Linked DNA regions of Homo sapiens: region 1 is linked to region 2. The links come from fine-mapping of genetic effects on gene expression. A gene starts in region 2. The other region holds a variant in brackets. All regions are shown on one strand. Distances are from middle to middle. Region 1 has its middle 31 kb from the start of PPDPFL. Region 2 holds the start of PPDPFL (pancreatic progenitor cell differentiation and proliferation factor like).

The links. PIP is the estimated chance that this variant, and not a neighbour inherited with it, causes the effect.
Region 1: its variant is the best candidate, but not a certain one, in a credible set for the expression of PPDPFL in skeletal muscle (GTEx, PIP 0.61).

The regions. Positions count from the first base shown.
Region 1 is chr8:49,039,227-49,043,629 of GRCh38, forward strand. No RefSeq gene overlaps it. Among named protein-coding and RNA genes, the nearest start is that of PPDPFL, 31 kb to the right of the region's middle. The variant G/A (reference allele first, on the strand shown) is at 2,143.
Region 2 is chr8:49,069,861-49,074,263 of GRCh38, forward strand. PPDPFL (pancreatic progenitor cell differentiation and proliferation factor like) reads left to right here and starts at 2,484. Exons shown (of 5, transcript NM_001256597.2): 1 at 2,484-2,622; 2 at 2,927-3,025; 3 at 4,199-4,276; 4 at 4,374-4,403. The coding sequence starts at 2,971.

The DNA.
Region 1 (4,403 bases), 31 kb before region 2:
TATTAAACAGCTAAGTGGCAGACCCAGGATTCAAACCCAGAGTCTGACTGCAGAGACTTAGTTTTCAAGAGCTGCCCTCACTCTTGAAGCCAGAGTCTCATCTCAGAGCCCAAGACCACCCCAGAGGACCCTGGCCCTAAACTGCTGTTGGCCAATAGCATGTACCCCAGCCCATCTACACAGAGTCTGAAAGAGCCTAGTGCAGGCCAGTGTCTTTCCTAATTGCAATGTTAGAATATCTAGGTCAACTGCTCTCAAAATAGATGTGTCATTGGGCTGCCCCTTTGTCTGCTGTTTACTTCTTCTAAGCACATTCTTCCTGGAAGTTGGTTGCTGTGGAAAATGGGCATAGTGCCTTCTACCTTGGATCATCAGCTAAGTGGCTAAAAACAGAGGTTGTTTGCAGAAACCCAATACTGTATTAATGCAAGGACTTCAGATGGGTGAGCTTGGTTATATGTTCAATCAAGGGAAGAGCATTTGTTTGTTTTAAGTAGATTAGTAAAGGGAAGTTATTCTAGCCTAAATCTTGTGGAATAAGTTGTTAGGTTCCAGAAACACTGTAATTAAGTCCAAGGTCACACTTAAGTCCCTCTCCACTCTTCGCAACTAAGGAAGCTGATGAGCACAAAAGACAAGCACCTCATGATCTCCAAAAAAAATCTAAAATCTAAAAATATCAAGCTCATAGTAGCAGAGAGTAGAATGGTGGTTGCCAGAAGCCAGGGGTTGGGGGAATGGGGAGATGTTGGTCAAAGGATACAAAATTTCAGCTGGACAGGAGGAATAATTTCGGATCTATTGTACAACATGGTGACCATAATCATGACGTATTGTATACTTGAAAATTGCTGAGCAAGTAGATTTTGTGTTCTCGTTACAAAAAAGGGTAAGTATGTTAATTAGCCTGATTTAGCCATTCCACAATGTAGACATATTTCAAAACATCATGGTGTACACCATAAATATATAGAATTTTGGTAAATTTATTTTTATTATTTTTTAATAAGAGCATAAAAATTTATTCTGTTAATTGACTAAAATATTTTATAACTATAGTTTTGATAGCATAAGTTTCTATGTTTTTGTGTATAATTTTAAAGAGGAAAAATGAAAACATGTTCGTATTTTGCTTAAAAGTTATCAACTTAAAGGTAAATACATTTAAAAGAGCATAATTTTTTTTCCTGTAACATACTCATTCTGTATCAAAGTTATTCTCTGTCCAAAAAGCATTTTTCAGCATTGCAGATGGAGTCAAGAGATTTTTTAAATAACTGTACCAGTCATGACTATGAAGGTATAGTCCTACTTCACCCTGATATGGAAAGTTTATTAACTGGAAACACAAAGTCATTTTTTTCCCTTGTTATGTCTGTCTTAGACTGTTCAGACTGCTATAACAAAGTACCTCAGATTGGGTAACATAAAAAATAGAAATGTATTTCTCACAGTTGTGGAGGCTTGGAGGTTCAAATTTAAGGCACCAGTAATATCTGGTTGAGGGCCTGCTTCCTAGATCAGACATGGTGACTTCTTGTTGTGTCCTTACATAGTAGAAGGGGCAAACATGCACCATTCAGGTCTCTTTTATTATTATTATTTTTTTTACCAACCTCAGATTATTCGTTTAATAACATCTTTACAGGTATCCATCATTCTTTTTTTTTTTCTTTTTTTAGTATTTATTGATCATTCTTGGGTGTTTCTCGGAGTGGGGGATTTGGCAGGGTCATAGGGCAATAGTGGAGAGAAGGTCAGCAGGTAAACATGTGAACAAAGGTCTCTGGTTTTCCTAGGCAGAGGACCCTGTGGCCTTCCGTAGTGTTTGTGTCCCTGGGTACTTGAGATGAGGGAGTGGTGATGACTCTTAACGAGCATGCTGCCTTCAAGCATCTGTTTAACAAAGCACATCTTGCACCACCCTTAATCCATTTAACCCTGAGTTGACACAGCACATGTTTCAGAGAGCACGGGGTTGGGGGTAAGGTATAGATTAACAGCATCCCAAGGCAGAAGAATTTTTTCTTATTACAGAACAAAATGGAGCCTCCTATGTCTACTTCTTTCTACACAGACACAGTAACAATCTGATCTCTCTTTCTTTTCCCCACATTTCCCCCTTTTCTATTTGACAAAACC[G/A]CCATCGTCATCATGGCCTGTTCTCAATGAGCTGTTGGGTAAACCTTCCAGACGGGGTGGCGGCCAGGCAGAGGGGCTCCTCACTTCCCAGACCTGGCGGCCGGGCAGAGGCGCCCCCCACCTCCCAGACGGGGCAGCTGCCGGGCGGGGGCACCCCCCCACCTCCCAGACAGGGTGGCTGCCAGGCGGGGGCGCCCCCCACCTCCCAGACAGGGCGGCCGGGTGGAGACGCTCCTCACTTCCAGATGGGGTGGCTGGGCAGAGGCGCTCCTCAGTTCCCAGATGGGGTCGCGGCCGGGCAGAGGTGCTCCTCACATTCCAGATGGGGTGGCCGGGCAGAGGCGCTCTCCACATCCCAGATGATGGGTGGCCAGGCAGAGACGTTCCTCACTTCCTAGATGGGATGACGGCCGGGAAGAGGCGCTCCTCACTTCCCAGACTGGGCGGCCTGGCAGAGGGGCTCATCACATCCCAGATGATGGGCGGCCAGGCAGAGATGCTCCTCACTTCCTAGACGGGGTGGCGGCCAGGCAGAGGCTGCAATCTCAGCACTTTGGGAGGCCAAGGCAGGCGGCTGGGAGGTGGAGGTTGTAGCGAGCCGAGATCATGCCACTGCACTCCAGCCTGGGCAACATTGAGCACTGAGTGAGCGAGACTCCGTCTGCAATCCTGGCACCTCGGGAGGCCAAGGCAGGCAAATCACTAGAGGTCAGGAGCTGGAGACCAGCCCAGCCAACACGGCGAAACCCTGTCTCCACCAAAAAATACAAAAACCAGTCAGGCGTGGCGGCATGCACCTGCAATCCCAGGCACTTGGCAGGCTGAGGCAGGAGAATCAGGCAGGGAGGTTGCAGTGAGCCGAGATTGCGGCAGTACAGTCCAGCCTTGGCAACAGAGGGATACCATGGAAAGCGGGAGACAGAGACGAGGGAGAGTGGGAGACCGTGGAAAGCGGGAGACAGAGACGACGAGGGAGACGGAGAGGGAGAGGGAGTGGTAAATTTAATAAATAAATTTTTTAAATGAAGCTGATGGTTAGAGCTGGTCTTTACTCAAAGCATCAGCATATTAAAATTTTAATCACAAAATTACTTTAAAAATGTGTGTGTGTGTGTGTGTATGAAATAACCTAAGTGGATAGATTATTTGTGTCATTTTAAATACTCAGTCTTGTTGAGAACTAATGTTGAACCAATCTTAGGTAGTTTTAAAATCACTCATCACTGATTTGGAAACAGGGAGTATTAGCCCTTTTAGGAGCCCCTGTGTTCTGTTAAAGGATTTAAGAACGAGGCATCAGAAGCACCCATCACTTAAACACAGTGAAGTCAGTGCAGTGCTCAGCTTTCAGGCTGTGCTGGGGATTCCCAGGGGGCTTTTAACCCAGCGGGCCAGTCAGGGAGGTGCCTACCTGGGGGAGATGAGCTTCAGTAGTTAGGCAGGAGTGATCAGGCAGGATCATGTGATGGGCCACTTTTTGTAGGTCAAAAATCATCAGTTTTGCATAGTTCAACCTAATCATCAACATAGTAGTATCTGGACAGAGGACAGAATAGGAGCAGGCAAATGTCTTATTGTCCCTTTCCCATGGTCTGAGCTCAGGATGTGCCTCAGGGTCCTTGGCCTCCATAGAAGCTCACTCCTCTTTCCCCCACAGCCTGTGACTAAAGATGTGGGGTGACTCCTCCTCTGCAAGGGACAGGCTTTTGTTCCTTGTTGAGCTACAATAGCAGTGAGTCTTTCTTCCCTTGTCACAGGTGTGGGCCACGTGTGGCAATAGTAGGAAGAGGAAAGGGAAAACCCCATTAAACGATGGTTGGGTACTCATCCAATGTCAAGAGCAGATGCTGGTGAACTCATGCGGTAGTCATTGCATAATGTGTCTACACACAGGAACTGTAAGCCTGTGGAGGAGGGCTTCTCACAGGAGGCCAACAGATCTCAGACCTTGTTGGCGGTATGATTATGGCTTTAGGTTGCCATTGATATTTGAATAATTTTAATTTCCAGCTTTTACATAGTAACTGCCCCCACGACTGATTGCTTTGTATTTTGTGAACTCGATTCATGTGTTATCTCTCCCAAAGAGCTGCAACTTCCCGAGAGCTTGGGGACTGTTATATTTCCTTGCACCCCCAGCACCTACAGAAGGAGAAGGGAAATGAGGGAAATAAATGGCAATCTAGTGCTAGCACCAGCTATACAGTCTATAAACATTGCTCTCTGTTTAAGTCCTTATGTAGATCCTTGGGAGTGGGTAA
Region 2 (4,403 bases):
GGAGGTGGAACTTGCAGTGAGCCGAGATCGCCCACTGCACTCCAGCCTGGGCAACGGAGGGAGACTCCATCTCAATGCACATGTATGTTCATTGCAGCACTATTCACAATAGCAATGACATGGAATTAACCTAGATGCCCATCAGTGGTAGACTGGATAAAGAAAATGTGATACATAGACACCATGGAATATTATGCAGCCCTAAGAAAGAATGAGATCATGTCCTTTGCAGGAAGACGAATGGGGCTGGAGGCCATGATCCTTAGCAAACTGACACAGAAACAGAAAACTAAATACCACATGTTCTCACGTAAAAGTGGGAGTTAAATAATGAGAACACATAGACACATCGAGGGGCACAACAGACACTGGGGTCTATTGGAGGGTGAAGGGCGGGAGGAGGGGGAGGATCAGGATAATAACTAACGGGTACTTGGCTTAATACCTGGGTAATGAAAGAATCTGTACAGCAAATGCCACAACACGTGTTACCTGTGTAACAAACCTGCACATGTACCCTTGAACTTCAAAGTTAAAGAAAGTCTTACACTTTTGGAAAAGAGGAAGCATTCCTAAACACTCAAGAAATGTGATAATTGTAGTTATAAAATATTTTGAAATAAATGACAAGAAGTGTAATTTTGGAGTAACTAAAAGGAAGAAGAATTAAAGCATAACAGAAAATAAAGAAATACAAAACCAAGAGACAAGAGAGGATTAAATATTTCTTTGAAAAAATTGGCTTTAGTAGACAAAGGTGTAGCAAAACTAATTATTAAAGCAGAGAGGGAGAAGAGGCCTAAATAAATGATATTAACAACAAAAAGGAAGGACGGTCAGGTGAAGTAGATATTTATTATTTGTTTATTTTGTTTTTATTTAATTGTGTATATTTAAGATGTACAACATGATATGACATTTAGAAATATCTATACATGCTAAAATGATTACTACACTCAAGCAAATTAACACAGCCATATCATATGGTTCTTTTATTTTGTATGTGTGCATGAGTGTGTGTGTGTGTTAAGAGCACCTGAAATCTGCTCTCTTGGAAAATTTCCAGTACGCAGTGGAACAGTATTAGCTACAATCCTGCTGTACATTAGATCTCTAGAAGTATTCATCCCACATAACTGCAGCTTTTGTACCCTTGGCCAACATCTCCTGACTCCCCGATCTCCCTGCCTCGGGTAATCACTCTTCTGTTGTCTGTTTCAGTTTTTTAGATTCCACATGTAAGTGGGATCATGTAGCTGTCTTTTTGTCCTGTGTCTGGAGTAATATTTGAAAGGAACCATGATGGCATACTACAGTAAATGTTTTGAATACATTTGAAAACCTAGCTGACATGAATAATTTTTTAGCAATGTATACGCTACAAAAATTGTGTTAGGAATACACAACCAATAGCCACTGAACAAATCGAATCAGCAATGGCCACAATCACCCCTCAATGTAAAGGGAGCCACAATTTGATGCGTAAGTCAACTGAGTCTGTGAAAGGGCAAAGCAGGCCGGGCGCAGTGGCTTACGCCTGTAATCCCAGCACTTTGGGAGGCTGAGGCGGGTGGATCACGAGGTCAGGAGATCGAGACCATCCTGGCTAACACGGTGAAACCCCATCTCTACTAAAAATACAAAAATTAGCCAGGCATGGTAGCGCGTGCCTGTAGTCCCAGCTACTGGGGAGGCTGAGGCAGGAGAATGGCGTGAACCTGGGAGGCGGAGCTTGCAGTGAGCCCAAATCGCGCCACTGCACTCCAGCCTGGGCGACAGAGTGAGACTCCGCCTCAGGAAAAGAAAAAAAAAAGGGCAAAGCAATCTATCCGAGAAATTTGTTACTAAAATCAGAATAAAATTTAGCTTTTGTATCAGTAAATGATATTGATACAATGTCATAAATATCCTCTTATTACCCATGATTTCCATTTCTCTTGTCATTCCTGCTAGAATTTCTAACTCACTGTCCATCTGTCCATCAAGTTCCACTGACTCTGTCCCACTTTCAGGAAGACTTCAATGTTTCCTAGAGTGCTTTCTTGCTCCGCTTTGACCGTGGGACTCTGCCTTGCCTCACTGAAACTGTGGGCAGGTATGTTCAGTCTCCCCAGCCAGATAGCAGGCTGCTTGTACATCCCACACGTGCCCAGCGTGGTGCTGCAGGTGGAGTGTGTGATTGTATCTAAGGCTGAGGAGACACTTGTGTATCGCCTCCCTCTCTGTAGTCACCAGCGGTTGTGATATTAAAGAGGCTGAGTCCAAAAGAGCATTGGGCCAAGTCCTTCCCTGCTGACTGCAGCCAAACTTGGCAGGCTGCTGCGTTCGGAGGGCCTTTGGCAGGCTGGAGGGCAGACGTGCAGAGAGTGCTTGCTTGCTGCCTCTGGCTGGCTGTGTGCCCACCTCACTCCGAGTCACCCACAGCTCAGGTTCCAGCCAGCCTGGGGCTTCTAAATATAAGGTGTGCTCAGGGGTCTCCCATCACGGACCTACCACTGGCCCTGCGTATGTGGTGCAGCCTCTCTTCAATCCCTAAGAACTGGTTCTTTCAAAGCATGTATTTTCTGAAGAAACTTTAGAACCACGTTTATTTTAAAAGAACGAATTGGAGAAAACAAATCGGTGAGTGACTACCTCATGGCTGAGTTAACACTTCTCTGACCTTTAGGTCTGTTTTAGATGGAGTAAGTTCTGTGCATTGTGTATAGTTGGATGTATAGTTTTTCTTTTTCACCTAAATGTACTACTTAATTGCATCTTTTTATTGCAGTATATTTGGTTGAACTTTTGTGTAAACATTTAAATTCCTTTTATCATATATTTATTACATGGTAAATGATAATACTTTGTAACAGTCACGTGGAAAAAAGAAAAGGAAACTCCCTGTTATTCATATCAATGTCTCTTTTCTCTGTCGCTGTTTCAGATTAATGCTCACAGCTTCTTGGGTGCTTTCTCACGGGTAAAGCCATGGCATCCGTACCTTCCATTGGTTGCCTTCTAGCCAGAAATCAGTATTATCGAAGTAAGTTGCATCATCATAGAGACGTCCCTAGATAATATGATTTGAGGTGATGTTTGTGGGATATTGTTAACACAGGTATCATGTTACCTTCAGAACTTAAGGGAGAGAACTATTGGTGACAATGAAGAAAGCAGGAGGCCTCAGGGACTTCTCTGATCCAGTGCTGACAGGCACTTCTTTGTTCTAGCTACGCTGTATCGTTGAAGCCATTGACACTTAAAAATCAGTGAACATCGGCTTATGTTTCATTAGTACATTTTAATTTTATGTACCTTGCATTCTGTAAGATTCACTAAAAACTGATAATTTTACATAAATAAAGTATTATTCAACTCCTTAGAAAAGAAAAGATAGCATGACTTTGCTTCAAAAATTTTCTAATTTCCATCTTCTGCTATGGATAATAGGCCAACTTCTATCTGGCCAGTTTTATTTTTATTAATCTATCCATCTGTTCATATTCATGGCCAAATAGAAAATTGTAGCTTCTTAGAGAAGATTGAGAAATTTCATAAAATAAAATAAGCATTTCAGAACCAAATTAGTAGTTATTACAAGTATCTATGGCAACAACACATAGAAAACTCTTCTTTCAAGGGTTGTTTGTAGTATAAGTGTTAGAGACAACTACTGATTTATTCATTTTACAAAAGTTTACGCTCATTTACTTGGTGTTATTTATCCACAGGAGTTACTTTTATATTCTGATCTTATAAGAGACATAGGTTTTAAATACAAGCCTAATAAGACAAAATGTTTGTTCTTTCCAAATAATTCCTTAATTTCTAGATTTGATGACTTCTGTAGAACTTTAAATATACATATATGTAATATTTCTAATGTAGTACAACAATATTTATTCTTGGTCTTGTTCTTTCTTAGTTTTTGAATCTGAAAACATTTATAATACATTTTAAATTCAACATTGATATCCAAGGAGAGAGTGAGTTTCCTGCCTTGGAAATGAGTATATCTTATCAGTAGAACATAGTATTTCTTAATATAGCAGCTTTCTATTGATTGGTAATTTGATCAGTTTTTCAATTCATGAATTCACAAGCCAGGAATAAATGATTTCAAACCATGCTACTTGACAGTTTGTATATAAATGATGCGGATTTGCTTGTCTGGTTGCCAGTTATTTATTTGTTTAATATCATTTGTTTCCTACAGAGTCCAGTGTTTCTTCAGTTAGTTCTTTAACTAGCTCTGATTCTGTTAACTTCATAGATGACGACAAACCACAGCAAGGTACTTAGTTATTTCTTTCAGTGTCATCCTTATTATTTCTTTTTATTTTCAATCTCAAATTTGTTTGATAAGGAGTAACATGAATTTTATTTAATAGGGTTGCCTGAAGTGGCAGAATCCACCTGGT